7 linked regions of the Homo sapiens genome follow. The protein of the gene in region 6 interacts with the protein of the main gene of each other region in a pairwise test. Each region holds a gene or a part of one and is shown on either strand. Other genes may lie near its edges.

Region 1 (4,087 bases), about 18 Mb from region 6:
GCTGTCTCAAAAAAAAAAAAAAAAGAAAAAGAAAGAGTAAGAGCAAGTGCCCTATGGTAGGACTATGCCTGGTGTGTTCAAGAACAGTAGAAAAGGCTGGGCACAATGGGTCACGCCCGTAATCCCAACATTTTGGAAGGCAGAGGCGGGCGGATCACCTGAGGTCAGGAGTTTGAGACCAGCCTGGCCAACACGGTGAAACCCCATCTCTACTAAAAATACAAAAATTAGCTGGGCGTGGTGGCACACGTTTGTAATCCCAGCTACTTGGGAGGCTGAGGCAGGAGAATCACTTGAATCCGGGAGGCAGAGGTTGTAGTGAGCCAAGATCAGGCCACTGCACTCCAGTCTTGGTGACAGAACAAGACTCTGTCTCAAAAAAAAAAAAAAAAAAAAAAAAAAAAAAAAAAGAAAATGGGCAAGTACTGCAGGGAAAAGAAGAGTAACCAATACTGCGAGTTCCTACAGATTAGAACAGTGCTATCCCTAACAGAGGCCAAGACAGAGTAACCTCTTTCTCACACTGGGGGAAAGAACAGAAGAAAGAGGGCAGAGAAGTTTGTAAGTAGAGGAAGGGAAAGCTCAGGGAGTTCATGCCCTTTTTTCCTATGAGGTGGCAGGCAAGGTATTCTGCCAAGCATGGGGCAGTGACAGGTTTGAGTCAAGGGGTCCAGATTTTATAATAGCAACTGTGGAGAAATGGGGAGGGAGCTAAGCAGAACTGCTCCGACAGGGACCAAAGACAGATTTAAGGGAGACCTCGGACTACACATTAATTGTGGCACTAATCCCCAGCACTATGCAGGTTTCTCCATGACACGGAGTAAGAATGGAGGGTATGGATGGTAGGGATGATGTGAGGCTGGCTTCTGCATAGTAAGTCCTGAAGAATAATAAGAAAGAATAAAAACTGCAAGCAATGCAACCCAGAGGTCGTAGTATAGAAAAGGAAGGAAAAGAAGTAAAATCTGGAAGAGGCCGACGGTTTAGGAGACTTAGAGTGGGAGAACACACATAAAGTGATTATGAAAGTGAAAGCTATCAATTATCACAGTTTAAGACTTGAAGGTGAATTTGAGACCTTAACATGATGACAAGTTAAAAATGTGGCCATAACACTAAACAACTGGAACAGAATGAAGCCAATGTTTGCTTGAGCTCAATTCAAGAAATTTCACAGTTAACGGTAGTTACAAAGGAAACTCAGCATAGTGGTTACTTACTAGTACTTATGATTTTGGGGAAGTCACTTGGCCTGTTTTAGTTTCATCTGTAAAATGGGAATAACAGTATTTATTTCATATGGCTGCTATTAGGGTTAAATTAGTTAATAAACGTAAAGTGCTTAGAAAAAAGCCTGGCACACAGAAAGTGCTCAATATGAATAAGCTATTTTATCACTATTGTTGTTTCTGTTATTGTTTATTTACATAGTCATTGACATCTGCCAAGATGATGTCAAAAATCTGGATGAAAGAGAGAACTAAGCCAACAATATAGTAATCCAAAAGAGCAATGGGGCTGGGCACAGGGGCTCATGCCTTTAATCCTCCCACTTTGGAAGACTGAGGTGGATCACTTGAGCTCAGGAGTTCAAGACCAGGCTGGGCAATAGGCAATATAGTGAGACCTCCATCTCTACAAAAATTTAAAAATTAGCTGGGCATGGTAGCGCATGCCTGTGATCCCAGCTACTCAGGAGACTGAGATAGGAGGACCACTTGAGCCCAGGAGGTCAAGGCTGCAGTGAGCCATGACTGCGCCACTGCACTCCAGCCTGGGCAATAGAGTAAGAGCCTGTCTCAAGGGGAAAAAAACGGGCAATGGTAGAGGGTAGTATGGTTGAATGATATGCTTTGGTATAAACAATGTGATATTAAATACAAAAAATAGGCCGGGCACAGTGGCTCATGCCTGTAATCCCAGCACTTTGGGAGGCCAAGGTGGGTGGATCACCTGAGGTCGGGAGTTCGAGACCAGCCTGACCAACATGGAGAAACCCCTACTTTACTAAAAATACAAAATTAGCTGGGCGTGGTGGCACAGGCCTGTAATCCCAGCTACTAGGGAGGCTGAGGCAGGAGAACCGCTTGAACCTGGGAGGTGGAGGTTACGGTGAGCCGAGATCGCGCCGTTGCACTCCAGCCTGGGCAACAAGAGTGAAACTCCGTCTCAAAAAAAAAAAAAAAAAAAAATATATATATATATATATATATATATATATATATAAAATATATAAATTTTTAAATCCATCAAACATTTACAAGCTTGTGACTTCAAACACTATACAAAAAACCACAAGACAAATGTAAAAGTACCAATTGAGTATTAGATAATAAGTACAGTATTATGTACATACAACATTACAAAGAATTTTGAAAATGCTCTGACTGGAAATCACGGAAACCATATCAGGATACTAAATTGTACTAAAATGAAAAGGAGTTGGAGTTAACTTTATCTCACCATTTCTATATAGAAATGGTAGCCCAGGTGCAGTAGCTCATGCCTGTAATCCCAACACTTTGGGAGGCTGAGGTGGGTGGATCACAAGGTCAGGAGTTCGAGATCAGCCTGGCCAATACGGTGAAACCCCGTCTCTACTAAAAATACAAAAATTAGCTGGGCATGGTGGTGTGCACCTGTAGTCCCAGCTGCTCGGGAGGCTGAGGCAGGAGAATCACTTGAACCCAGGAGGTGGAGGTTGCAGTGAGCCAAGATCACACCACTACACTCCAGCCTGAGTGACAGAGTAAGACTCCATCCCAAAAAAAAAAAAGGGCAGGGCACGGTGGCTCATGCCTGTAATCCCAGCACTTTGGGAGGCCAAGGCAGGCGGATCAGAAGGTCAGGAGTTCGAGACCTGCCTGGCCAACATGGTGAAACCCCATCTCTACTAAAAATACAAAAATTAGCTGGGCATGGTGGCAGGTGCCTGTAATCCCAGCTACTTGGGAGGCTGAGGCAGGAGAATCATTTGAACCCGGGAGGCGGAGGTTGCAGTGAGCTGAGATCACACCAATGCACTCCAGCCTGGGTGACAGGGCGAGACTCTGTCTTAAAAAAAAAAAAGAAAGAAAGAAAGAAAGAAGTGGTAAAGTGTGAGTTCCTGGAAGGTAAAGAACTAAATCTCTACATGCACCCTCAGTTAATGGGTAATGCCTATAGTAAAAGAGCATCAATGAATCAGTGGCCCGTTAACCAAACAGTTCAACTCTGAGAAGTCCAAGGCATCTTTTTATTTTTAGCAGGCAAAGTCTGAGCCCAGAGTGGAGTGCAATGGCGCTGTCTTAGCTCACTGTAATCTCAAACTCAAGCCATCCTCCCCACTCAGCCTCCGAAGCACTAGGACTACAAACACACACCACCCACATCCAGATTTTTTTTTTTTTGGTAGAGATGGGGGTCCTGCTATGTTGTCCAAGCTTGTCTCAAACTCTTGATGTGAAGCAATCCTCCCGCCTCAGCCTCCCAAAGCACTGGGATTACAGATGTGAGCCACTGCATCCGGCCCAAGGCACCTTTTGCAGGTTTTTCCTACCACAGTCACATCTGTTTAATTTCTCTTCTATCCTGACAAGCTGCACAAAAAAAGTTCAAGAAGTATGCATATTTATTCACACTGTTTCACAGAATCCAGATATTCACCAGTACCTGTTCAAACGAGGCCATCTTTCAAAGAGAAATACATGAAATAGACATAAAATAACTTCAGAGCATTATGAAATTATATCATGTTAGTTTACAAGACCAAAAGGATATGCTTCCTCCTGGAAAAGATCTACTATGATTAGCAGCCTGGGAAGGGGATTACAAACAGGAAGGCAGGGGGCCCATTGTCCTTTACTTTGTACCCAGGACAAGACCACAGTGAGAAAATGGGCTAAAAAGCTTTGGCCTTAAGAAAGACTCCGTTGGCAGACTTTCTTGGACACTTATTCCCTGCACGAAATCAAAATGGGAAAGAAGAAAGAGAGAAAAAAGGAAAAGTGCATTCATATCTGGTCTTGAAAAGGAAAAACAGTCTGTTCTAAGCCTTAAAAGCTATACTTAATTGGATAAATTTTGGAAAAACACTCATCAGAGC
Region 2 (4,087 bases), on a different chromosome or scaffold from region 6:
CCTTTAAGTAAAAAATATTTTCAATCAAAATCAGAATTCGACTTCAGCTTTGAGGGTATTTATTAGATTCAAATAATGCAATTTATAAAAATTACACTTGCTACCCTAAAAATATATTCACTAAAAGCCTTTTCTTTTTTTCTTTTTTCTTTTTTTTTTTTTTTAAAGAGACAGTGTCTTACTCTAAAGAACGAGGCTGCCCAGGCTAGAGTACAGGAGTACAGTGGTGTGATGATGGCTCACTGTAGCCTAAAACTCCTGGGCTCATGGGATCCTCTCACCTCATCCTCCCGAGTAGCTGGGACTACAGGCATGAGCCACCATGCCTGGCCCCTCTATTTTTATCAGGTGTTACAGAAAAGCTTCAAAATCATCATGGAAGAAAATTATCATTTTTACCAGTACAAAACTTTTATTGCATCCCAACCAAGCTAAGATGAATACAGAATTGTTTCAACAGAAGTTACCATTATCATAATTCAAGACAAAAATCAGCCGGCAATTACATGAGTTGGAAAACAAACTACTCTTATGTCACAGTCTACCCTAAAGCTCCAACTTATGTCAGAATTTAAAATACACACACATATACACAACCCTGTGGATTCCTCCTCATTTATGTAAAACCTACTTTTGTGATGATCTGCTATTTTCTTGAGTCTTCTGGAATGAACACTGTAGCCCCACTCCCGGATAAGGAGAAGATACCACTTCCAGGGCTTAGCACTGCCCCTGGCTTGAAGCAGATACTCAAATATTTGTTGGGTGAATGAATGATTGTCTGCTGATAGGGCTGCCCATCAAGCCTCATAAAGAAAAAATTCAGAAAAAAGCAACTTTATAGAGAAAATAGGAAAAAGTTTAAGAGATATTTTGCTCACTTGAAGAAATCAGCATTTGTTAAAGGTGAAGACTGGATTGACTGGTTCATCAAGTGGCTTAGACACAACTGACTAAGTGGGCTATACCTTATCCCACCCCAAAGTTAAATACAAAACAGGTATTTTTTTTTTTAATCACAGGAAAAACACAGGGCAACTTAACTATAAAATTATTATTTTTATTTTTTATTTTTGAGACAGAGCCTCACTCTATCGCCCAGGCAGGAGTGCAGTGGCGTGATCTTGGCTCACCGAAACTTCTGCCTCCTGGGTTCAAGCGATTCTCCTGCCTCAGTCACCCCAGTAGTTGAGATTACAGGTGCCCGCCACCACGCCTGGCTAATTTTTGTATTTTTAGTAGAGACGGGATTTCACCATCTTGGCCAGGCTGGTCTTGAACTCTTGACCTCAGGTGATCCACCCGCCTCAGCCTCCCAAAGTGCTGGGATTACAGGCATGAGCCACCGCATCTGGCCCTTTTGTATGTATTAAATACGTATGTATGAATATAATACATCATCAGGTTTTTTAGGAAGAAAATATAGATGACTATTGATCTGTTGTTAAGAGTAGGAAAGGATTTCCTGGCGGGGCGCGGTGGCTCACGCCTGTAATCCCAGCACTTTGGGAGGCAGAGACGGGCGGATCACAAGGTCAGGAGATCGAGACCAGCCTGGCTAACATGGTGAAACCCTGTCTCACAAATACAAAAAAATTAGCCAGGCGTGGTGGCGGGCGCCTGTAGTCCCAGCTACTCGGGAGGCTGAGGCAGGAGAATGGAATGAACCCGGGAGATGGAGCTTGCAGTGAGCCAAGATCACGCCATTGCACTCCAACCTGGGCGACAGAGCGAGACTCCGTCTCAAAAAAAAAAAAAAAAAAAAAAAAAAGAGTAAAAAAGGATTTCCTAAGTATGAAAGCAAAAGAATAAATCATAACATAAATTTTATATATCAGAAAGACAAGAATCAAGACGTAAGACAAAACAGGAAAATATCTGCATGACAAAGAGTTAACATCTTTAATACATTAAGAGCTATGACAATGATTATTGAGGTTTAGCCTCAGTAATAATCCAAGCGGCACCAATTTAAAAGATGTATATCCAATTCTGGGACGATATGGGAAAATGGCACTTTCTCAGACTGTTGTGGGAACTGGGATAGCCATTTTGGACAGTGATGTGGTGGTATCCACCAGAAATTCCAAGTCTAGGCAGCCATTCTTCAAAATGACTGGCACATGAGGAATTTCAATCCTGTAGCATTTTTAATAACATAGAGAGACAACGAAATGCATGACGGTAAGTCAGCCCTGGACTACACTGCTATTTAAAAGAAATGAGGCAGAGATGAATATATGAGATGGAAAAATGCAGAATATGTATATATAACACCATCCTGAGGCCAGGCACGGTGGCTCACGCCTGTAATCCCAGCACTTTGGGAGGCCAAGGCAGGTGGATCGCCTGAGGTCAGGAGTTCGACACCAGCCTGGCCAACATGGTGAAACCCATCTCTACTAAAAATACAAAAATTAGCTGGGTGTGGTGGCAGGCGCCTGTAATCCCAGCTACTCAGGAGGCTGAGGCAGGAGAATCACTTGAACCCAGGAGGTGGAGGTTGCAGTGAGCCAAGATTGTGCCACTGTACTCCAGCCTGGATGACAGAGCAAGACTCCATCTCAAAAAAAGAAAAAACAAAACAAAACAAAAACCCTCCTGTTAATTACAACACAAAAAGTACACAGTTTAGTCTTAGAAGACTTAGAAGGATCTACATTAAGCTATTAACAGCAGTTATTCTGGGTAGTGGGAGCAGAGATTAAGCGGGGAGCTTTCATTTTTTTACCTGATACTTTTTTTTTTTTTTTTTTTTGAGACCGAGTCTCACTCTGTCACCCAGGCAGGAGTTCAGTGGTGTGATCTTGGCTCACTGCAACCTCCGCCTCCCAGGTTCAAGTGATTCTCCTGCCTCAGCCTTCCGAGTAGCTGGGACTACACGCTCAAGCCACCATGGCCAGCTAATTTTTGTATTTTTAATAGAGATGGGGTTTCGCCGTGTTAGCCAGGCTGGTCTCGAACTCCTGACTTCAGGTGATCCACCCGCCTAGGCCTCCCAAAGCGCTGTGATTACAGGCATGAGCCACCTTGCCCAGCCACCTGATCAATTTTTAAGTGGTTTGATTTTTCTATAAATCCATGTATTATTTTAGTAATTCTTTAAAAAGTAAAAGAAGAAAAATAGATATCAAGCATTTATCTACTAAAGACGGGTACTGTCCTTTGAGAATTCCCTCAAAAGTTCTTTGAAGCTCAAATGGCTACATCTTTCCCATTCATAAGATACTTTTTAAATTTCCTCTTTCTACATTTCTTTTTAAAAGTTTATTTTCAATTAGCTTCCTCAGGTTGAACTCTCTGTACATTTCTTAGGAGAAACTGTATGGTGTCAACACTGCCTGTTTTATAACATCCATTCGTAATCTGTAATCTGAGAAAAAGACTCGTAAAAACCCAAACCACCCTCCAGGCCTAACATCTTCCAGAAGAAACCCATTCACTGCCCATATTACATTTAGTCCACACAATTTCTGAGACAAAGCACAAAGCACTAGCCATACAACTCCCACCAGCATAAATACGTGGAGTACAAAGAATGTCCTGTCAGCTGGGCCCAGAGCACACCCCACAGCAGTAAAAGAGAATGACAATTTGAGTCACAGGATCAGGAGCAGAATCAAATTTGGGACTTGAGGCAGTGTGATGCTCTTCTGGTCTTCCGCTTCCTTCCACACCTTCTATTCTCCTTCAGCCAAACCTTGCCCTCACATAATCCCTAAGCAGGCTATTTCTTATGGATGTCTACAACAGCTTCACACTGAGGTGTCAGAAACCACTAGAGAGACAACAAAGAACGACTTAGGGTCTCAGTCGGAATCACAATGGCCGCATAAGTGAAAACTCACATTTTTGCTTAGGGGAAAAAAAATGGGAAAATTCAATTGGAACATTCTGCTTTACCACACAGAAGTTCTGAAATCCACATGTCAAAACATCAAATGCGGAGTGACCACTAATCAAAAAGACAAAACAAAACAACAACAACAACAACAACAACAAACAGCTTGAGATGTTGAGCCTGAAGGTTGAGAAATTAAGGAACCATTCATTTTTACAAAACTAAAGTCCACACAATGGTGCCAAG
Region 3 (4,087 bases), on a different chromosome or scaffold from region 6:
ATTATCCATCTGTAATAAAATCTATTCATAAAATAATACTATAATCAGATAATGCGCTGAAAGAGAATTTTACATAACCTTAATAGTGAAACATCTTTTCGGATTATGTAATTGTTGTGGGTTCTGTTAAAAGCAAACTGCATTTTTTTTTTTTTTTTTTTTTGAGATGGAGTTTTGCTCATTGCCCAGGCAGGATGGCACGATCTTAGCTCACAACCTCTGCCTCCCAGGTTCAAGCGATTCTCCTGCCTCAGCCTCCCGAGTAGCTGGGATTACAGGCATGCACCCCCATGCCCGGCTAATTTTTTATTTTTAGTAGAGACGGGGTTTCTCCATGTTGGTCAGGCTGGTCTCGAACTCCCGACCTCAGGAGATCTGCCAGCCTCAGCCTCCCAAAGTGCCGCAATTACAGGCGTAAGCCACCAAGCCCGGCCAGCACACTGCATTTTAAGACACCTTAACTGTTCAATGCTGACTACCTTAACATACCCTTACAACCCTCTCTAGGAGGAAAGGAGGACCACGAATCATTTCTAATTTTAAAAAATACACACAGACACACTCTCCCTCATCTATCCTGAGGTATCTGAAGGTCTACAGTTAATCTTACATCATTTTACAATGTGTTATTTTGTAAATGTTATTACTTCGGAGCCTAGCAAAGGGTCAAGACCATACTTGGATTCTCAATAAACACTCCCTTGTAGCAAAGCACACGTCTTTAAAAACATCAAATAGGGCAAAAGGGCTTATAATAAGAAGTCCTCTGCCCATCTTCTCTTCAATCCCCAGAGACAACCAATACTAATTATTTTAGCCACTCTAATATATGCATACTACAATTGTTTATCAATTTGAGGTACTACTTTTTACCACAATATTAATAGCCAACACTTATTGTTGTTTACTAAGTGCCAGACACAGAACTTCACATGTATTATCTCACTTAATCCTCACAACAGCCTCATAAAGTAGGTGTTATTATACCCCCATTTTAGTTTGGAAAATTGGGATGCAGAGTTCAATAACGTGCCCAGGATTGCAAGCTAGTGAGCAGAATTGAGATTTGAATCCTAACACCATTGCTCACTTTTAACCTATATACTCTTATATCCACCAACTCCACAGTCCACTCTTAATAAATACTTTTGAGATCCTCCCAAATTAAATAAAAATAATGAACAAAATAAAACAAGCCGAATCAGGAAAATGACATTTCTCAAAACCAGAACAATTTTTTGGTCAGTAATTTTCAACTCTGGCTTTGAGCACAATCCATGAAGTCTCACCAATTAATCACATTTTAATTTTATATCTATTGACTCAGTGATTACTAAGCTTAATAGTAATGCTCAGTGGTTACTGGGCTTAACAGTGGTCACTATACTAAGCATAGTAGTTACTAAGCTTAATATATAGTATTTTAAAATATACATTATTTTAAAATCTAGATTATTATTATATGACCTATAACATTTTTGCTGAATTTTTTAAAAGGCATCAAATCCTAGTGACTGCATAAAGAAGTGCTTTGAAGGAAAAGAGTTGCAGGTAACCTATGGGAAGAAAAACAACTTTCAAAGTCATTTTGTATCTGCTTTCTGAAAGCAAATGAATTACCTTATATGTGTACAAATACATATATATACACACACACATATAATATATACATAATAGGGCAAAAAGTAATAGAAAATGGCAAAATTCTTTTCACTAAAGAACAGCTTCATGGCCGAGCATGGTGGCTCATGCCTGTAACCCCAGCAGTTTGGGAGGCCGAGGCGGGTGGATCACCTGAGGTCAGGCGTTCCAGACCAGCCTGGCCAACATGGTGAAACCCCATCTCTACTAGAAATACAAAAAATTAGCCACGTGTGGTGGCAGGCACCTGTAATCCCAGCTACTCGGGAGGCTGATGCAGGAGAATCGCTTGAACGCAGGAGGCTGAGGTTGCAGTAAGCCGAGATCACGTCATTGCACTTCAGCCTGGGCAACAAGAGCGCAACTCCATCTCAAACTAAAGCAAAAAACCAAAAGCTTCAAAAAGTAGATTTTATGAAATCTGTGAGGACAGTAGATAATAGCAATAGTTTGATTTAATATTCAAACAGAAATCATCAGAAATAATAAAATGAATGTGAAATAAAAAACGTTACCATAAAAAGAGAGACGAAAATGAGAAAAAAAGGCAATAGCAGAAGTTTTGAAATAGAGAAAAAAGGAAGAAAGAAAGAGATGAAAGCCCTAGATAATCTAGGCAATCCAGTTCAAAGCTCTGAGTCAGATGGTTCTGAAATAGCCCCTGTGATACTGTGGCAGAAGGGGATATTGTGATCTCATTCTATCAAAGAGCTGAGATGACTTACTGAGGATGTACTAGTAGGTAAAATGGAAGCTGGTCATGGCTAGTCTGCTGGACCAGTAGACCAACATATGGTCTCTGTCCCTCTACGGAAGCCTTTCTTCTAACCACTCTAAATGACAGGAATCTGACACCACTTACAAGCTACATTACTTAATTCAGTACTTATTTGAATCGTCCAGTGTTTCACGTGCCTACAACTTCCCAACTAGTTATTTACCTTCTGGAAAACATATGCTATCTTTTTTATGTTATTTTAACCCATATAACCTAACACAATGCTACGTACCTAGTAGACAGATGCTCAAGTTGATTATATTGAAAAATCACAATTTAAAACCAGAACACTTGAGTCTGAAGAAATCTTAGAGGTCATCTAGTCTAGCTACTTTATCTTAAAAGCAACAAAACTGAGACCAGTTAAATACCTACTAGCTCAAGGTCACTGAGCTAGAACTAGTACCCTAATCCCTTGATCATCAGTTCTTCTTTATCCAAAGAGCCTTTAATTTCTTTCATTTCAATAAAACAAATAATCACCTATTTCAAAAGAAAACAAAGTAACAGCAGCTTCCCTTTCAGTATTCACTATATGCCAGGGCCTTCAGAAGGTACAATTTGCTTGGCAGCCTATGTGCCTAGGTCTATGAAAACTGCTTTATAAACATTAGCCTAGTTAATATTCACAATAACTGTAAAAGGTGTCACTATTAACCCAACTTTACAAATGAGAAAAATGTACTTTGACCATGATAACAGTAAGCTGCAGAAGCTACATTTTCAGTTTGTCACCACAGCTTTGGATTTTTTTTTTTTTTAAGAGAGTTTTGCTCTTGTTGCCCAGGCTGGAGTGCAATCTCGGCTCACTGCAACCTCCACCTCCCGGGTTCAAGCAATTCTCCTGCCTCAGCCTCCTGAGGAGCTGGGATTATAGGCATGTGCCACCACGCATGGCTAATTTTGTATTTTTAATAGAGACAAGGTTTCTCCATGTTGGTCAGGTTGGTCTTGAACTCCGAACCTCAGGTGATCCGCCCGCCTCGGCCTCCCTAAACCCTGGGATTACAGGCGTGAGCCACCACGCCCAGCCAACTTTGGCTCTTAACCAGTATTCTACACTGCCTCTCACTGAACACCAAAAATATCCTGAAGTCTCACACAGACTCCAGCACAATTCCTTACCCAAACATGACAAACAAATGTTTAAATGACCAACTAAATGAGTGGATGATTTAATTCATTAAAAAGTAAGATTATCTTACCTAAAATACCTCTAAAAAGGCGTTTATCTAATTGTATAATCCTCTAAGAAAGGTTTTAACAGTGGGCAGTTTGCATACTAATAAGAGATTTAAGCAATGCTCATTTCTTTACCCACAAATAATTCATCTGCTTAACAAATACTAAAGTGAAAAACTGTTTTTGTGTGAGAGTATTAAATTGGAAGATAAAAAGTGAAATGAAATTTGTTCCTGCAAGATCCTATTCCACTAAATTAAAACCCACATAAGTTTTAAATCAGTCACCAAAACCAAAATAAATGTGTAACACTTCCCTTTCTTCTGGTAGAGAAAAAAGAAGTAACATTAACTGAGCACCTACAATGTGCCAGTTCTTGACCCTCAACATATAGCCTCACTTAATCCCTTACAGCCAAGTAAACTAGGCAGCATCTCCATTTTCTTTTCTTTTCTTTTTTTTTTTTTTTTGAGACATAATCTTGCT
Region 4 (4,087 bases), on a different chromosome or scaffold from region 6:
GAGATATGAGTCTCAGCTCTTCATCTTAACACAAATATCATCGACAAAACAACAAAAACAGTGACCTAGTTTTTACCGCCACAACCACCACCACCTCCCTTGCTATAGAAGCCCTTCAAGATGCCCCCCCCAATGGTCCTTGCCCTCTGCTCATCACACTTACACGTGGTCACCTCCCACGTTAACATTAACCAACAAAATACTCCATCAGGTAATAAAAGACAATGCAGCTTTTATCCTGATCACTCTCTCTCCTGTCTGGGATCCCTCATTCTGGGGAATGCCAGCAGTCATAGCATAAGCAGCCCTGTGGAAGGTACCCAGGATGAGGAACTAAGGCCTCCAGCCCATAGCCACAGGAGTGAGCTTGGAAGCAGATTCCCCAGACTCAGTCAAGCCTTCAGATAACCGCAACCCTGACCAACAATTTATCTGCAATCTAATGAGACCCGGTGCCAGCACCACCCAACTCAGCCACTCCTGCATTCCTGACCCTCAGAAACTTCAGGATAATAAATCTGTGTTATCTTAAGCCAGTAAGTTTTAGGTAAATTGTTATGCAGCAATAGGTAACAAATATACCACGCAACCAAACTTCAAAAGTCTCTGCCTGATTCTTGTTTTGATAATATGGAAAACATTATCATCTTTCTAAATAAACCAGCCAAGCACAGCCAAACTGAATTACTGCCTGTAGGTCTCACTATTTACACAGAGTGACTGTTCACAACCTGGGGGACACAGCCCCTGGGAGGTGCATGGGTGGGTGTTAGGAGGCTCATCAACTACCTCCAATTGTGTGCAAATGTGTGCTTTTTCTGGAGAGAAGGCCCACAGATTTCCTTACTGAACCCAAAAAGTTTCAGGACTATTGTGATGAAGGGTGGGGCTGTGGGACAGCCTAAAGAGGTCAGATCTTTTCAACCCGGGGAGATGAAGGTTGACGGAGAAGGATCTAAATTTGGAAAGTCACCACGGAACAGCCAGTGACCACAGTGCCAAACCCCAACATGCTAAAAACAGTGGGACCTTGACCTCAAGGCCACTCATCAGTGGATGGTGGTGCTCCCTGGAAACATGCGGCACCATCAGTCAGCCAGCCCCCTGGCCCTCAACCTGGAAATGACTCAGAGAGAAAGTGGAGGGTGCAGGAGAAGGAGGGGCTGCCCACCCTCGTCAGGAAAATTACTGGGAGCCACGAAGCATAGAGTCCCTGATGAACTTCTGTGCTCATCAGAGAGCATGCTGAGCCATCTTCCTACCCGAATCTCAAGCATCTCCAAGTTCAGTTCAAGTTCCCATCCAATGAGACATGTGTCGAGAACCTGTGCCAGGTGCTGGGCTGACAGAGTAAGTAAGAAATCATCCTTGCTGTCCCAAACAGCAAAGGTTGCTGGGGCCCACATAGCTGGACTCCAGTGATATCAGTAAGCACCAAGAGGAAGGGCTGCCCAGGAGAGGTCAAGGAGTCTGAAGGAAGTGACCACTGAACTGAGCCTGCCAGGCCAAGGACAGGCAGTGGGGTACTCCAGGTAAGAGAACAGCGTGTCCCAGGACACGAGGGTGTGAGAAATCCGTGCCTTCTGGGCATGGCCCATTACAGAAACCAGAGTGTGGGGCTAGAGAGGCCAGGTGGCTGGGTCTGTCGTGCCAGAATGGAGGGCTGGCCTGCTGTGCTGACAAGCTGGGCCCTGTCCTGAGGGTGTCAGGAGGGGTGTGACAGCACCCAAGGCCAGTAAACAGCTTGGAAGTGGTTCAGGTGAAAGCTGATGAGGCCTGAGCTAGGCGGGTGCAGTGGGGATGAGGGAAGGATAGGCTGGGGATCTCCTGAGTGGACTCAACAGGACTTGTTTCTGGGGTGTTGAAAATGTTCTAGAATGAATCCCAGCACTTCGGGAGGCCAAGACAGGTGGATCACTTAAGGTCAGGAGTTTGAGAATAGCCTGGCCAACATGGCAAAACCTTGTCTCTACTAAAAATACAAAAATTAGCCGGGCATGGTGGTTCGTGCCTGTAATTGCAGCTACTCAGGAGGGTGAGGCAGGAGAATTGCTTGAATCTGGGAGGTGAAGGTTGCAGTGAGCTGAGATCCAACCACTGCACTCCAGCCTGGGCAACAAGAGTGAGACTCTGTCAAAAAAAAAAAAAAAAGAAAAAGAAAGAATATGTTCTAGAATTAGACAATGGTGATGGTTGCACAACACCGTGAATGTACTAAATGTCATTAATAATAAATGTTATATTATTTGTATTTTACCACAATTTAAAAAAAGACTTTGTTTGATTGGATATGGGGTTGAAAGAATGGAAGATAAACTTCCTGGATTAGATTCCCAGGAGGATGTGTGTGCCACCAAACTAAAATAGAAAATGCCACACGCAGCTGGGTGTGGTGGCTCATATCTGTTATCCCAGCACTTTCGGAGGCCGAGGCAGGAGGATGGCTTCAGCCCAGGAGTTTGAGACCAGCCTGGGCAACAAAATGAGACCCCAGTCTCTACAAAAACAAACAAACAAACAGAAAAAGATAAGGAAGGAAGACAAAGTGATGGTGGTGCAGCTGCGTGTGAGGGGCCAGTAGGAGGACTGGGAGGAGACATCAAAGGTCAGCCTGTGTTAACTGGAGGCTCAGGGCAGAGGCCAGGGCTGGACTGTGAAGGTGGGAGGAGTGTGAACTTAGGGGAGGAGGGGGGAATGTGGAGGTGTTGAGAGGGGAGCTGGTCTCCAGGGAGGATAAGACCAGGAGCCCGCAGAGACCAGGACAGGGTTCAGACTCCAGGAGAAGACAAAGTAAGTCCAAAGTCAGCCATGGGGGAGAAGGAAGAGGGTTTGTTAGAGAGTGAGGAGACAAAGCAGGGAAGAGGATGGAAAAGGTCAAGGAGCGAGGCTTTGGGGCACGATCAAAAGTCAAAGGCAGGAAAGGGGTACAGGGAGCCGAGGGCTGGAAGTGTCCGTTGCATTTGGCATCAGGTGGTCCTTGGTGACCCCTCAGCAAGAGGAGACCCAACAGCCGGAGAAGTGGGGCCTGAGGCCAGGCTGCTGGGAGGCGAGGCGTGTCTGAGAGGTGAGGTGGGTAGGCACAGATTATAAACTAACTTTCAGAGAGGTTCGACTGAGAAAGGAAACTAGAAAGGCCAGATAGGGGGACACCAGATAAACGGTGGGGGTGGGTGTCTGCTTGTGATTTTTCTTTTTCCTAAAAAAAGAGTTCCCATTCACTGAGAGAACAGAGCCAGAAGCAGAAATAGAGATTCTAGAAGTGGTGGTAGGGGAGAGGGACTTGAATGCACGTAGGCGTGGGGTCCTGGGGGTGAGGAAGGGTCTCAGCCTAAGTGCCTGGCTGGCCCCCATCAGCTGAGGAGCAGGGTGCATGTGTCCTCCGAGGCCGGGAGGGAAACCGAGAGGATGGGTGGAGAGGCTGATAAGCCTGCAGCCAGGCCCAGGCGGGAAGTTGAGGGAGTTCCCTCCAGATGACTGTTTTCTAGGTGAAGATGGAGCAGCCGTCACCTCCTGAGGTGAGGCAGCTGCAGTGAGGTGCGGGCTGGAGGGGAACAAAGAGGCCTGAGATGGAAGGAAGGGAAAGGGCCGAGGCTGTCCCAGGACCCCAGCCGCAGAGCGGGAGACTCAGAGCAAGCCTGCAGGCCACGCACTGCAAATGCTGGCCTAGGGGGCCTAAGGAATGGAGACCTGGTTCCAGCCGCCGCCCTGCCCACCCCCAGTGTTGACCCTGCTTGCTTGGTGCCTTGTGGCCTCTGGGTCTGTTTCCTTGAGTGTAAAACAAGGCAGAGGCCTGAGGAGGCAGTGGGAGAGTCGCTCCCTGTGCCATGTGCTGCAGTTCCAACGTCTTCCCTGAAGGTACAAAGAACATTCATTCTCTAGGAACCCAAAGGAGGGAGCAATTGACTTCCATGTGGTGTGGAGGGGGAGAGGGGAGAGCACCACGGTTTTGGGAAACAGGATGTTGTGGGTAAGAAAAAGAGGGACCCCAAAGCGTGAGTGTCTGCAGGGCAGGGTCTGGCCCAAAGGGTGTGGTCTGGGAGGGTACGAGGGCTGGAGTGGACAAAGGGAGAGTGGGTAGGGCAGGAGT
Region 5 (4,087 bases), on a different chromosome or scaffold from region 6:
AAGGCGGTAAAGAACAGACAGGAGGGATGGTCGCAGGCAATGGCAACAGGGGATAAAAGCCGAAAGGCCAGAGAAAATCTGGCATGTCGTAAGAACGAGATGGAAAGCAGATCATGAAATATGTTCGGTGCCTCATCAAAAAGCTTAGACTTCATCCTGAGGGCAGCAAGGAGCCCCTGAAGAGTTGGGATGATATGCCCAGATCTGCAGAAGATTTCAGAAGATCACCTTGGAGGCAGTGTACAGTAGAAACAGAAAGAGACCAGGAAAAAGGCAAGTGCAGCCTCCAAGGTGAGAAGCAACCGAGGTGGGAGGGAAGGTGGAGGCACGCATTCAGAAACAGCAGGCTCCATGCGGGAGCTAGAGTCAGGGTGCCTTAAGGAACCATAAGATAGAGGTCCAGGTGCACTGTGGAATAGACTTAGCATCCCTTCTCCTGGAAGCTTTGCCCCACACACTCCCCACACCCAAGCAGGATAAGTGCTCGTCTGGGAAGCACTGAGTATTTCTCCCAGTAATACGTATCACATAGTACCGTCATTCATTCCTTAGCTGTCAGCCTTTCTCTATAGACCCAGAGCTCCGAGCAGGTAGAGGCAGTGGCCATCCTGGTCAGTGTCCACGTGTGGCATCTGGAACAGTGCCCAGCACTTGGGAAGCCAAACTGAGTGAACAGAGCTGGATAAGCCAGGAGGCCACTGCTCTCATTCAGGGGAGAGATGACTGTGTCATGGGAAAGGAATTCGAAAGATATAACAACTGAGCTTCTTAATTTCTCTCTAGTCACCATTCAAAACACTGAATGAAATGCTTTCCAAGTCAATTATGTTATGAAAATTCAACAGTAAATCTGATCTGTTGAGTGATGTCCACAAAAGCTCACATCCCTGTGGAAAGTCAGAAAGGATCATGGTTTGAGCCCTTTTACAAGCAAAAATTAGGCATAATTCTAGGCCACATAGAAACTGCCACCTCATTGGGATAACAAGTTTACCTTCTTTTGTTTTCAGAATAATTCTGCAAAGCCTCAAAGCAGAGGATGGAAACATTTCAAATCCTGCTGACATAGTCTGCATCTTTGCTTTGATTTTTAAATATGATTCCAAGCAGGCAGATAATGTTGTGACCCAATTACGGGGTATTTTGGAAGTAGTAGGCACCCAACTTGGGAGTGGAGCTGGTGGGTGTAAAGGGAAGAGTTACTAAGCAAGCACTACCACCTGCCTCTCAATCCTTCACGGGATTTTACAGAGAAGGGAGCTATGGCAATCAGGAAGTAATGCAACATCTCCCCTGACCCGCTTCCCATTTTCTCACCATTCCCAAAATAGACAGAGCTAAGGAAAATCATAAATATAATTCTCAGCCCTCTAGGGAAAAGCTCATTAAGGGCATAAATTTGGGTCCCTGGGAAAAAAGGGATGAAAGGCAAAGCTATTAAAAATCTCAAGAGATGAGACAATGGGAAATAAAGCCAACGGACAAAAAGGAACTAGAAAAACACAAAAACTATGGCCATTTCCTACACCAAAGCATACTTACAGGTAGGGCTACAAGCTCAACTGCCCTGGATACTCTAAACTCAAGCTCTTTAGAGTCAAAAGGTAAAGTTTTTGTTTAAAACTAAAAATAAAAATACTCGTTAAGTAAGGTCTTATCTCACATCAAGTATTGTTCTCTGCCCTTATACATTCACTGATGAAATCTTCACAACAATCATATTATATAAGCACAATTAGTATTCCTATTTGCAGATGAGCAAACTGAGCACTGTGTAATTCTGTTGTCAAAGTACAATTCTGTTGCCCTTTGTCATATGGCTATTAAATTGCAGAGCAGCACTGGGACTTGACCACTAAACCCCTGCTGCCTCCTTCTAGGGCTATCCTTGCACATGTTGTAGGATATTTAGTAGCATTCTTAGCCTCTTCCTACTAGATGCCAGTAGTTATCCCTCCACAGTCACCATGACCAAAATGTCACTGCCAAATGTTCCCCAGTGAGCAAAACTGTCCTGCTTAAGAACTACTGCCACAGAGATTTGAAAGGCCAAATCCCGAGTTCCCTTACAAAAGGAGTAGCAAATCCTGGGTGGTAGGCAGGAATAAAATTGAGTTAAGGAAAGATGACAAAGGAAGCAGCTGAAGGGTTTGCTGTAGTGGGAATTTTACATGAGGAGTCACTAGCCACAGCTCTTGCCACTCTCGCAGGATTAGGACAGCCTTCCTTCCCCTCCACTCCCATCACACACATGCCTCTACTGCAGCACCCTATAACCAATGTTCTGGTACATTCCTCTCTGTCCTCCTGAACTTAGCACAGTGCCAGGCACAAACTATGTACTCAATAAGCATTTGCTGAACAAAGGAAGGAACAAATGAAGCCGAGGTTTCTGGATGTCACCAAATGAATGTCTCTCTTCACCAGTGTCCTGGAAAAGGTATACACAGACCTTGGTTCTTGGAGAGGACAAGAGGTTCTGATCAGATAATCTGAAGAATCTGAGTCTGAATCAATGCTTCCCAAGGTGTCTCTACACCCAAATCATGCCTCTGCTGTGTTCAAAATTTGCAATGTGGTATATGATCATTTCTTGAAATGTCAAGGAAATTTTAACGGTATTAGTTCCCCCAGGAATGAAACAACTCAAGAAACCTAACTCATGCTAAGGAAATTCTGATTTATTCACTTCCACTGACAAACAATACCACCTAGCAAATTGTGATACTCAATGTGGCAGGTCGACTCTTGCCCAGGACAGAAGTCTACCTGAGAAACAGAAGGAAGATCAGAAGGTAAGAACAGAGCCAGCACCAAAGAGCAAGCAGGATGCTGCCAGGGAGAGGACCCATACCTGTAATCCCAGCACTTTGAGAGGCTGAGGCGGGCAGATCACTTGAGGTCAGGAGTTCGAGACCTGCTTGGCCAAAGTGGTGAAACCCCAGCCTCTACTAAAAATACAAAAATTAGCCGGATACAGTGGCGGGCACCTGTAGTTCCAACTACTTGGGTAGCTGAGGCAGGAAAACTGCTTGAACCTGGAAGGTGGAGGTTGCAGTGAGCCGAGATTAAGCCACTGCATTCCAGCCTGGGCGACCAAGTGAGACTCCGTCTCAAAAAAAAAAAAAAAAAAAAAAAAAAAGGAAATAATTTGTTGTTATTGTTTTGACACTCCTTCTTCACCCCACAATAGCAACCAAAACTAAAGGTGAATAACAGCAATTCCATGAGCAAATCATTCTGAAGCTTCCTCCAGCAATTCAAGGCTCACCCTGGAGGGAATGATACTGCAGAGGTCTGGGCCAAGCTGGCTATTACACAATTCTAGGTTCTATGGCTTTCACCCATCACCATTTCCTAGAATCACTAACTAAGAATTGCTAAAGAGTGTTGTTTTGCCAGAAAGAGGCCTGCATGCAAAGAATCAAATGTCAAGATACATCTTGAGGTTCACCTGCTGAAATTCACACTTCAACCACTTGCCCATTCTGTTCCCTTACACCCTCATCTTTCATCTTGGTGCTTTCCTTGTCATTCTCAAGCTATAATTCAAAAATAGTCACTGGCTCCTAGGGCACTTTCAAAATTAGCTCATTCACAGTTCCTAGGACCTTGGGTGACTCTATATTCCTGGAAAGCCCAGGGGCCCCATCAGCTGACCCACAAACTCCACATGTTGGCCTGGCCTCCATGACTCAACTCAATCCCAAGGGCAGGCCTCCCTGCATCTCAGGCCCAGATTCCCAGACTTACCAATTTCATGGACCATTCAGCGGCTAGATAAAAATATTCCTATCAAATCATAAAAGAATCTTACCCAAAAATGAGAAAGGCATAGTATCAGAGAAAAGGACATATCTTCTTATTTGAACAATTATGACATATTCACTACATCATTATCATCATTGTGATAAGAACAGTGAAAACCACTAACCAACAATAAATGACCTGTGGGGCTAACATTATGCTCTGCATATAGGAGATACTCATTTACTTTTATATTGTGTGGAAACTGAGCTCTGACTTACACGACAGGGACACATCCCATACCTCCAGTAATGCCAGGCCTTCCTTCTTCAACAATGGC
Region 6 (4,087 bases):
TACTTTTAATATATTAACTATTTCTTTTTCTTCTTCTTTTCTTTAATTGAGACAGTCTCGCTCTGTTACCCAGGCTGAAGCGCAGTGGCATGATCTCAGCTCACTGCAACCTCCACCTCCCAGGTTTAGCAATTTTTATGCCTCAGCCTCCTGAGTAGCTGGGATTATAGGCATGCACCACCATGCCCAGGTAATACATTAATTATTTTAATCTTTCAATAAGTCTATAAAATAGAAGCTATTTGTTATTATCACCATTTTACAGATGAGAAAACTAAGGCACAGAGAGTAACTTCCCCAATGCTATACACATAGTAAGTCACCAACCTGGTATTCGAGCCCAGGCAGGCTAGCTTCAAAGCCTGAGTTCTCAAACCACAGCTATGTGTCTCATAATGGAACAATGCAGACAGGACTGGTGATATTTAAAAGCTGACTGAGCTTAAAATGTATGATATGCCATACTATAGTCATCAACAGCCAGAATTCTTAAGCCAAGTAATGAGAACATACGAGAAGATGGCAAGTCTTCTTCTTTATCCTTTACCATTCTCATTTTTTTTCCCCAGGCCTCCCAAGTATGAGTATGAGTTAACACAAGTGAAGTGCTTTAAATAGTGCCTGGCACATAGTAAGTGCTCACTAAGTGTTAAGAGCAGGTAGTGGTATAAAAATAGTAGAGTATGTCTGCTGACCCTGTTTCACTCTACCAGCTAGGATAGGCAAGGAACTGTTGATATTTCTACGCCCTTTCCCCCTTTGTGATTACAGGAAACGAATTGGGACAATACATAAATGTAATCCACTGTCGCAAACCCTAATTACTCTTCAGTCATGTTATTTCACCTGACCATATACACATGAGCAAACTGCTTCATTCCTCAGTCCTCTTTTTTTGGTTTACAAAGACTGGACTTGGGCCAGAAGAGAGCAGAATAAAGCAGCTTTGTAACCTTTTGACTAGTTGCCAAGAACAGAAGCAAGGTTTGTGAAAACCAACTGAAAGGACCTAAACTTTGGACTGTTAGATGGAAACTAGCAAAGGATTCTAACGATAGAAGCTCAGCATACAACCGAGCATTTTCAACCTCACGATTCCAAAATAAGTTTTTAAAATAATGTGCCTAGAAATGGTAAAGAACAGGGATGACAGTAATGGTAATCAGGGCAACAGGACCTCCCTCTCTCAATGATTGTTCTGCAGCTATTTAGGTTAAGTTTTACAGAATCCATCCACGTACATTGCAGAGAAAAAAACTAGCAAACCTAAACATTTTCTTTTTTTTTTTTTTGGTAGAGACAGGGTCTCGCTATGTTGCCCAGGCTAGTCTTGAACTCCTGGGCTTAAGTGATCCTCCTACTTCAGCCTCCCAAAGTGCTGGGATTACAGGCATGAGCCACCACACCTGGCCCCAAACCTAAACATTTTCCATTACAAAAAGACAATATTAGGGGAAAGATCTAGCAGTCACTAAAATTTTGCAAACTGCAGGTACATTGCATTAACTACGGAAACTAAAGAAAAAATTCAATTTCACCTAAAAGCTAATCATTCTAATGTATTCCCGTAGTAACGGCACTGATATCAACTTAGTGAATGGAAACCAGCAGTTTGTTTTAAATTAAAAACAATAAAACAAATAGAGGCCAGGCACAGTGGCTCACACCTATAATTCCAGCACTTTGGGAGGCTGAGGCAGGAGGATCACTTGAGCCCAGGAGTTCAAGACCAGCCTGGGCAATACAGTGAAACCGCATCTATAAAACACAAAACAAACAAACAAAAAAAATTAGTGAGGCATGGTGGCACACACCTGTAGTCTCAGCTGCTTGGGAGGCTGAGGCAGGAGGATCACCTGAGCCCAGGAGGTCGAGGCTGCAGTGAGCCGTGATAGCGTCACTACGCTTCAGCCCAGGTGATACAGGGTGAGATCCTGTCTCAAAAAACAAACAAACAAACAAAATAGAATAGAAAATATTAATATTACAATGCATCACCAGTAGTAAAGATACTGTTTCAAGAAACTTCTGTTTCGATTTCAAATATTAATATGTACATATATGTGTCTGAGTACTGGATAGCAATGTAAAATGTATTTTATAGTGGGTCATGATCAGAAAAGTTTAAAAGCCACTTTATCAGAAAAAAAAAAAAAATGGCCAGTCAAAAAGGGAAGAAAATAACCACTTCATACTACAGAGGAAACAACATTCAGAGTTTGATGGTTCTCTTTTTTGTTTGTTTGTTTTGAGACGGAGTTTCGCTCTTGTTGCCCAGGCTGGAGTGCAATAGCGTGGTCTCGGCTCACTGCAACCTCCGCCTCCTGGGTTTAAGCGATTCTCCTGCCTCAGCCTCCCAAGTAGCTGGGATTATAGGCGCCTGCCACCATGCCTGGCTAATTTTGTATTTTTTTTTTTGGTAGAGACGGGGTTTCACCATGTTGGCTAGGCTGGTCTTGAACTCCTGCCTCTCAGGTGATCCTCCCGCCTCGGCCTCCCAAAGTGCTGGGATTACAGGCATGAGCCACTGCGCCCGGCCGATGGTTCTCTAAATTGTAGTTTTATATAAGCAAGCCTCTGAAAGAGAACAAAAAAGATAAAGGAAACCACTGAGTTACTTCCAAAAATTTTTTTTTGCACAGAATGTGAGGTACCTACAGTAAATAAATACATACTAACAAAAAATACATAGAAATGAAAGCAAAAATTTTCAGTTTATCTACCTATTAAATGCCCCACTAAATATGAGAGATGGCCTATTCTCTTTGTGAAGCTCTAGTTCTCACTCTCAAGAATATTATTCATTAGTGTTGCCTAACTACTGCTTCCTAACCTATAGCAGAAGAACACCTGGTGAAAAGCAAAAGCAGATTTCAAAAATTATTCTTTAAATTATCACAGATGTTTCCTAAATTTGACATTTTTAAATTTAAAAGAGAAAAATTCAGTGATGTAATAAAACACTGATTTTTATAAGATATTTAGGTACTATTTTTTATCCTATAATGTTCTCTAAAGTCTGAAATATTCCCCCAAAATTCATACATGTATATATTGGATTATTCTTTTGGTAAAGAGAGTGAGATTATCACATTCATTTCATCAATCTACTAGGAAAAAATTAACATCATTGTGCTAAATTAAATGTTCCTCTTATTTTGAAAAGGGGGAGGGGCACAACAGGTGAAGCTGACCTAAATCGTTTTCAGTCACTATGGAAACTAAAGAAAAAATTCAATTTCACCTAAAAGCTAATCATTCTAATGTATTCCCGTAGTAACGGTGCTGATAGCAACTACCTACCAATTTTCCTAAATTCAGTAATTGCTACAATATTAAATTTCAGGTGAAAGAAAACTATTGAAATGTTTAAATACACTGATTATCAGACCCACATTGCTTTGAATGTGGAAGCCATTAAATTAAATTAAATTGCAGAAGCAATTTAAAAGGGAATTGCTTTGAATCAAAAATTAAATGTTTAACTAAAAGTAAAGAACATTCTAAATATCAACAAGTATTATCATCATAGCAAAGCTTACTCTGTTCAGCTCCATAACAATACTTTCCCACCAAGTGGAAAAAGGACAAAAGCTACTATAAAAAAACAGTATACTTAATGTCTCAATTAATAAGAGTTAACATGAGAATTAAAATTAGTATTCCTAATCAAATGTCACTTCTTACCAGAAATATTTATACTTTTTCTGTAAACCAGATTCTACGATTCTCGACTGTTTTCAAAATATTCAGAAAAATAATATCATTATCTGAGTACAAGACTCCTGCATTAAGGTGCACCTCAACTTATATAAAATAATCTCCTTCCCCCAGATATTTGATTAAATTTTTTTATTTGGGCTTAATAAAGGAACAAAAGAATCATCTTAATATGATCAATAATATTCTAAATGACTATTATTTGCATCTTCTCATTTAGAAAGTAATTTGTTTGTGAAAGTTCCCCTCATCTTTTCTAAAGTAAAAATAAAATCACTAATTTAAATATACTACTCTAAACATGATAGCCCTAAAGAGATGAATGTACTCTAAACATGATAGTCCTGAAGAGATGAATGTCCTTAAT
Region 7 (4,087 bases), on a different chromosome or scaffold from region 6:
AGAGCAGCAGCTGCCACCCCTGGGCAGAGAAGACACTGGTCAGATCTTGCACATGTGGCACACGGTGATTCTCCATAAACACTGGCTCTTAACATCATAAATGTCCAGCAGCAGATGAAACTGAAACAGTCATCCAGCTCCCGGTTCAAGCTACGGGTGACGCCACAGGGGAAAATTTCCCACCACCCAGCAGGGACCTAGTTACCAATATTCACAGAAACCCAAAACGCACCCGGAAGCAGGCGTCTTTCCTCTCTTTGCAGTCCTGCTTCAGACGCAGGGCCACATTTTCCCTTTATTCAGATTGTAGCTAATGCCCTATAAATATCTCATTATTGGCTTGGATTTTTCCAAAGCTTTAACACAATAAGGGCTTAATTACAGCTTGTAGTTGGCAATCCCAGTAAATTACGGTTTACATGATGTTCTCACTTTTTTTCAGCAGCCGAGGGGCCTATAATTTCAGCACTTTCATTCAAATCGGGCAGAAGTTTGGCAGATGTGGCTCTGAGCCAAATATAAACGCTGAGAGCGACAGCGAGACAGGGTTCCATTCAAAGGCCAGCCTCTACCGCCTAAGCCAACTCTGAAAACTCTAAATCTAACCTAGGCCGGGTGCCGTGGCTCTTGCCTGTAATCCCAGCACTTTGGGAAGCCGAGGCAGGAGAATCACTTGAGCCCAGGGGTTTGAGACTAGCCTGGGCAAAAAATAATGAGACCCCACCTCTACAAAAAATTTCTTAAAATTAGCTGGGGGTGGTGGCGCACACCTGTGGTCCCAGCTAATTGGGAGGCTGAAGTGGGAAGATCCCTTGAGCCCAGGAAGTTGAGGTTGCTGTGAGCTGTGATCACGCCACTGCATTTCAGCCTAGGCAACAGAGTGAGATCCCGTCTCAAAAAAAAACAAAAAAAGAAAAAGAAAAGAAAAGAAAACCTCCTCTCTAAATCTACAACTGTCCCCAAGGCCATCTTCCGCCCTCATCCAGAAACAATCCAGGTTATTACCAGGGGATTTCAATGTTATGAACCTATCAAGGGCTGTTATCCGTCAATAAGTAACTCTGAAAAAGCACTTGGACAGCCTAGAGCGCAGCTTTGGAGAAATCTGTCTTCCTGATTATAAACCTAATCCCCAAACCAGCAAAAACAAACCAAGAATCACATGGGGAGACGATTCACATGTGGGGTTAGGGCAGAGTATGTCTTTCCGGTCTTTTCACTGAGCAAATACAATCGTTTTAAACAAGACAGGATCCCACAGCCCATTTCATCTGGTACCTAACAGGTCTTGTGCAGCTTTCTGGGTCATTAAAGATTCTTCTAGATCCCTCTGAGTAGCGAGTTGATAGTCGGTTGTCTGGACACGCTTATCTGGCCAAATCCCCTATCATTGGTTTTTGTTTGTTTGTTTGTTTTGAGACAGAGTCTCGCTCTGTTGCCCAGGCTGGAGTGCAGCGGCGCAATCTCGGCTTACCGCAACCTCCGTCCCCCAGGTTCAAGCGATTCTCCGCCTCAGCCTCCCGAATAGCTGGGATTACAGGCGCCTGCCACCACGCCCGGCTAATTTTTGTATTTTTAGTAGAGATGAGGGTTCACCATGTTGGCCAGGCTGGTCTCGAACTCCTGACCTCTGGTGATCCGATGCTGGGCATTTTTTCTCCCATTTCTCATCACCGTACACAAAATGTGTGTAAATAACTCTCACGGCCAATTACTTGTTTGCAGCCATGATTCCCACTTAGAAAGGAACCAGGAACAACTTCTGGTCGATATTTCAGGATCTGGGGAACAGGGCGTGCCTGCATGTCCTGGTCCTGGCTGTATCCCCAGAGCAAGAACATTGCCTGCACTGATAGGCACTCCATTTATATCAACAGAGTAATGATGAGTTCCTTCTCTTTAAGGAAAAAGAAACTAAGGCCGGGTTCGGCGGCTCACACCTGTAATTCCACCACTTTGGGAAGCCAAGGCAGGAGGATCGCTTGGGCCCAGGAGTTTGACACCAAACTGAGCAACAAAGTAAGACCCTGTCTCTAAAAAAAAAAAAATTTTTTTTTTTTGAGGCAGAGTCTCGCTCTGTCGCCCAGGCTGGAGTGCAGTGGCACGATCTCGGCTCACTGCAACCTCCGCCTCCCAGGTTCAAGCGATTCTCCTGCCTCAGCCTCCCGAGCAGCTGGGACTACAGGTGAGAGCCACCACACCCACCTAATTTTTGGATTTTTAGTAGAGACAGGGTTTCACCATGTTGGCCAGGATGGTCTCAATCTCTTGACCCCGTGATCCGCCCGCCTCGGCCTCCCCAAGTGCTGGGAATACAAGTGTGAGCCATCGCTCCCTGCCAAAAAAATTTTTTTGTAATTAGCCAGGTGTGGTGGCTCATGCCTATAGTCCCAGCTACTCAGGAGACTCAGGTGAGAGGACCACCTGAACCCAGGAGTTGGAGGCTGCAGTGAGCCATGATTACGCCACTGTACTCCAGTCTGGGGGACAGAGCAAGAGAAAAGAAACGTACACCTGTCATCAGAGTCCTGATCCCAGATAAAAGGAGACAAAAGCCAACCAACGAGATCACAAATGCTGCCTGTTTCACAACAATTTGCTACGTGATTCTCAGTCCACTCCCAGTAGGCAGAGACCACCATGTTCCCATTTTCCAGATGAGGAAACTGAGGCCCAGAGAAGTGAGGTCACTTTTTTGGTGTGTGGCAGAACCAAGCCTTCCATATTCCCACAGATCCCTCTGGACTGTACCAATTCCAGCAGGCCCAGCACTGCAGACCACCCTAACCGAGCCTTGCATGGCCTTTCCTTTTTTCCTTTTTTTTTTTTTTTTGAGATGGAGTCTCACTCTGTCCCCCAGGCTGGAGTGCAATGGCGTGATCTCCGCTTACTGCAAGTTCCTCCTCCTGGGTTCAAGTGATTCTCCTGCCTCAGCCTCCCAAATAGCTGGGACTAAAGGCATGCGCCACCACACCTGGCTAATTTTTGTATTTTTAGTAGAGATCGGGATTCACTATGTTGGCCAGGCTGGTCTCAAACTCCCAACCTTGTGATCTGCCTGCCTCGGCCTCCCAAAATGCTGGGATTACAGGTGTGAGTCACCATGCCCGGCCATGTATGGCCTTTTCAAGATGCAATTTGTCTTTGCCCAAAAGGAAAGTCACTGGAAACAGAAGATGTCATTTCCAAGTGGCTCTAAACTAATAAGATCTGTTAAAGGGACAAACCAGCCCAAGGAACACATCACGTGCCCCTCCATCTGTCAGGGACAGGAGCCAACGGGCATCCGATGTGCACTGGTGCAGCACCCACTGAGGCACAGGCAGTGCCCCCGCGGCTCATCCACATATCCCTGGAGGGACACATCACCAAAGGCCAAATAAAAACGCAGCTGGAAACGCCAGCATCCCCGGCACAGCTGCTTCTTATTAAAAGAAAAATGGCACGGGGCGCCTACATGCCTGTGGAGTCTGCTTACTGAGAAAACTGAGTTGAAGCTGGAAATCAAAGGAGAGAGCCCTCAGCTTGGCCAGGTCCAGAGGGACAGCAGTAGCGCCACCAGCTTTACTTCCCTCTGCTCAGACAGCCTCCCTGCCCACAATGTTCCTAGAGGCCTGGTCCCACCCTAATATCTCCCAGATCTGATCTCCCTCCACTGGCCTGCTAAACTGGCCTCCGGGCATCCTCCCACATCAGGACCTTTGCACTGGATTCTCTTCCCGTCTCCAGGGGTTCCTTCCTCGCCTCCTTCAAGGCTCTGCTCAAATGTCACCAATTTCCCTATTTAAAATGTACCCCCTCTGGCCAGGCGCAGTGGCTCACGCCTGTTATCCCAGCACTTTGGGAGGCCGAGGCGGGCGGATCACGAAGTCAGGAGATCGAGACCATCCTGGCTAACATGGTGAAACTCCATCTCTACTAAAAATACAAAAAATTAGCCGGGCCTGGTGGCAGGCGCCTGTAATCCCAGCTACTCGGGAGGCTGAGGCAAGAGAATGGCGTGAACCTGGGAGGCGGAGGTTGCAGTGAGCCGAGATCGCGTGACTGCACTCCAGCCTGGAAGACAGAGTGAGACTCCGTCTCAAAG

The links.
Region 1: the proteins of EYA3 (region 6) and KIF1B interact in binary tests that used the Homo sapiens proteins (3 or more experiments, as listed by UniProt).
Region 2: the proteins of EYA3 (region 6) and MECP2 interact in binary tests that used the Homo sapiens proteins (3 or more experiments, as listed by UniProt).
Region 3: the proteins of EYA3 (region 6) and ZDHHC17 interact in a two-hybrid assay, tested with the Homo sapiens proteins (one large-scale study listed by BioGRID and IntAct).
Region 4: the proteins of EYA3 (region 6) and PECAM1 interact in binary tests that used the Homo sapiens proteins (3 or more experiments, as listed by UniProt).
Region 5: the proteins of EYA3 (region 6) and APBB2 interact in binary tests that used the Homo sapiens proteins (3 or more experiments, as listed by UniProt).
Region 7: the proteins of EYA3 (region 6) and DNM2 interact in binary tests that used the Homo sapiens proteins (3 or more experiments, as listed by UniProt).

The regions. Positions count from the first base shown.
Region 1 is NC_000001.11:10,213,281-10,217,367, reverse strand, and holds part of KIF1B (kinesin-like protein KIF1B), read right to left. Parts: intron 1-4,087. UniProt on the Homo sapiens protein: Has a plus-end-directed microtubule motor activity and functions as a motor for transport of vesicles and organelles along microtubules.
Region 2 is NC_000023.11:154,087,404-154,091,490, forward strand, and holds part of MECP2 (methyl-CpG-binding protein 2), read right to left. Parts: intron 1-4,087. UniProt on the Homo sapiens protein: Chromosomal protein that binds to methylated DNA. It can bind specifically to a single methyl-CpG pair. It is not influenced by sequences flanking the methyl-CpGs.
Region 3 is NC_000012.12:76,767,003-76,771,089, reverse strand, and holds part of ZDHHC17 (palmitoyltransferase ZDHHC17), read right to left. Parts: intron 1-4,087. UniProt on the Homo sapiens protein: Palmitoyltransferase that catalyzes the addition of palmitate onto various protein substrates and is involved in a variety of cellular processes.
Region 4 is NC_000017.11:64,384,269-64,388,355, forward strand, and holds part of PECAM1 (platelet endothelial cell adhesion molecule precursor), read right to left. Parts: intron 1-4,087. UniProt on the Homo sapiens protein: Cell adhesion molecule which is required for leukocyte transendothelial migration (TEM) under most inflammatory conditions.
Region 5 is NC_000004.12:41,204,084-41,208,170, forward strand, and holds part of APBB2 (amyloid beta precursor protein binding family B member 2), read right to left. Parts: intron 1-4,087. UniProt on the Homo sapiens protein: Plays a role in the maintenance of lens transparency, and may also play a role in muscle cell strength. Involved in hippocampal neurite branching and neuromuscular junction formation, as a result plays a role in spatial memory functioning.
Region 6 is NC_000001.11:28,078,518-28,082,604, forward strand, and holds part of EYA3 (protein phosphatase EYA3), read right to left. Parts: intron 1,935-4,087; exon of another isoform or gene 1,815-1,934; intron 1-1,814. UniProt on the Homo sapiens protein: Tyrosine phosphatase that specifically dephosphorylates 'Tyr-142' of histone H2AX (H2AXY142ph). 'Tyr-142' phosphorylation of histone H2AX plays a central role in DNA repair and acts as a mark that distinguishes between apoptotic and repair responses to genotoxic stress.
Region 7 is NC_000019.10:10,724,192-10,728,278, reverse strand, and holds part of DNM2 (dynamin-2), read right to left. Parts: intron 1-4,087. UniProt on the Homo sapiens protein: Catalyzes the hydrolysis of GTP and utilizes this energy to mediate vesicle scission at plasma membrane during endocytosis and filament remodeling at many actin structures during organization of the actin cytoskeleton.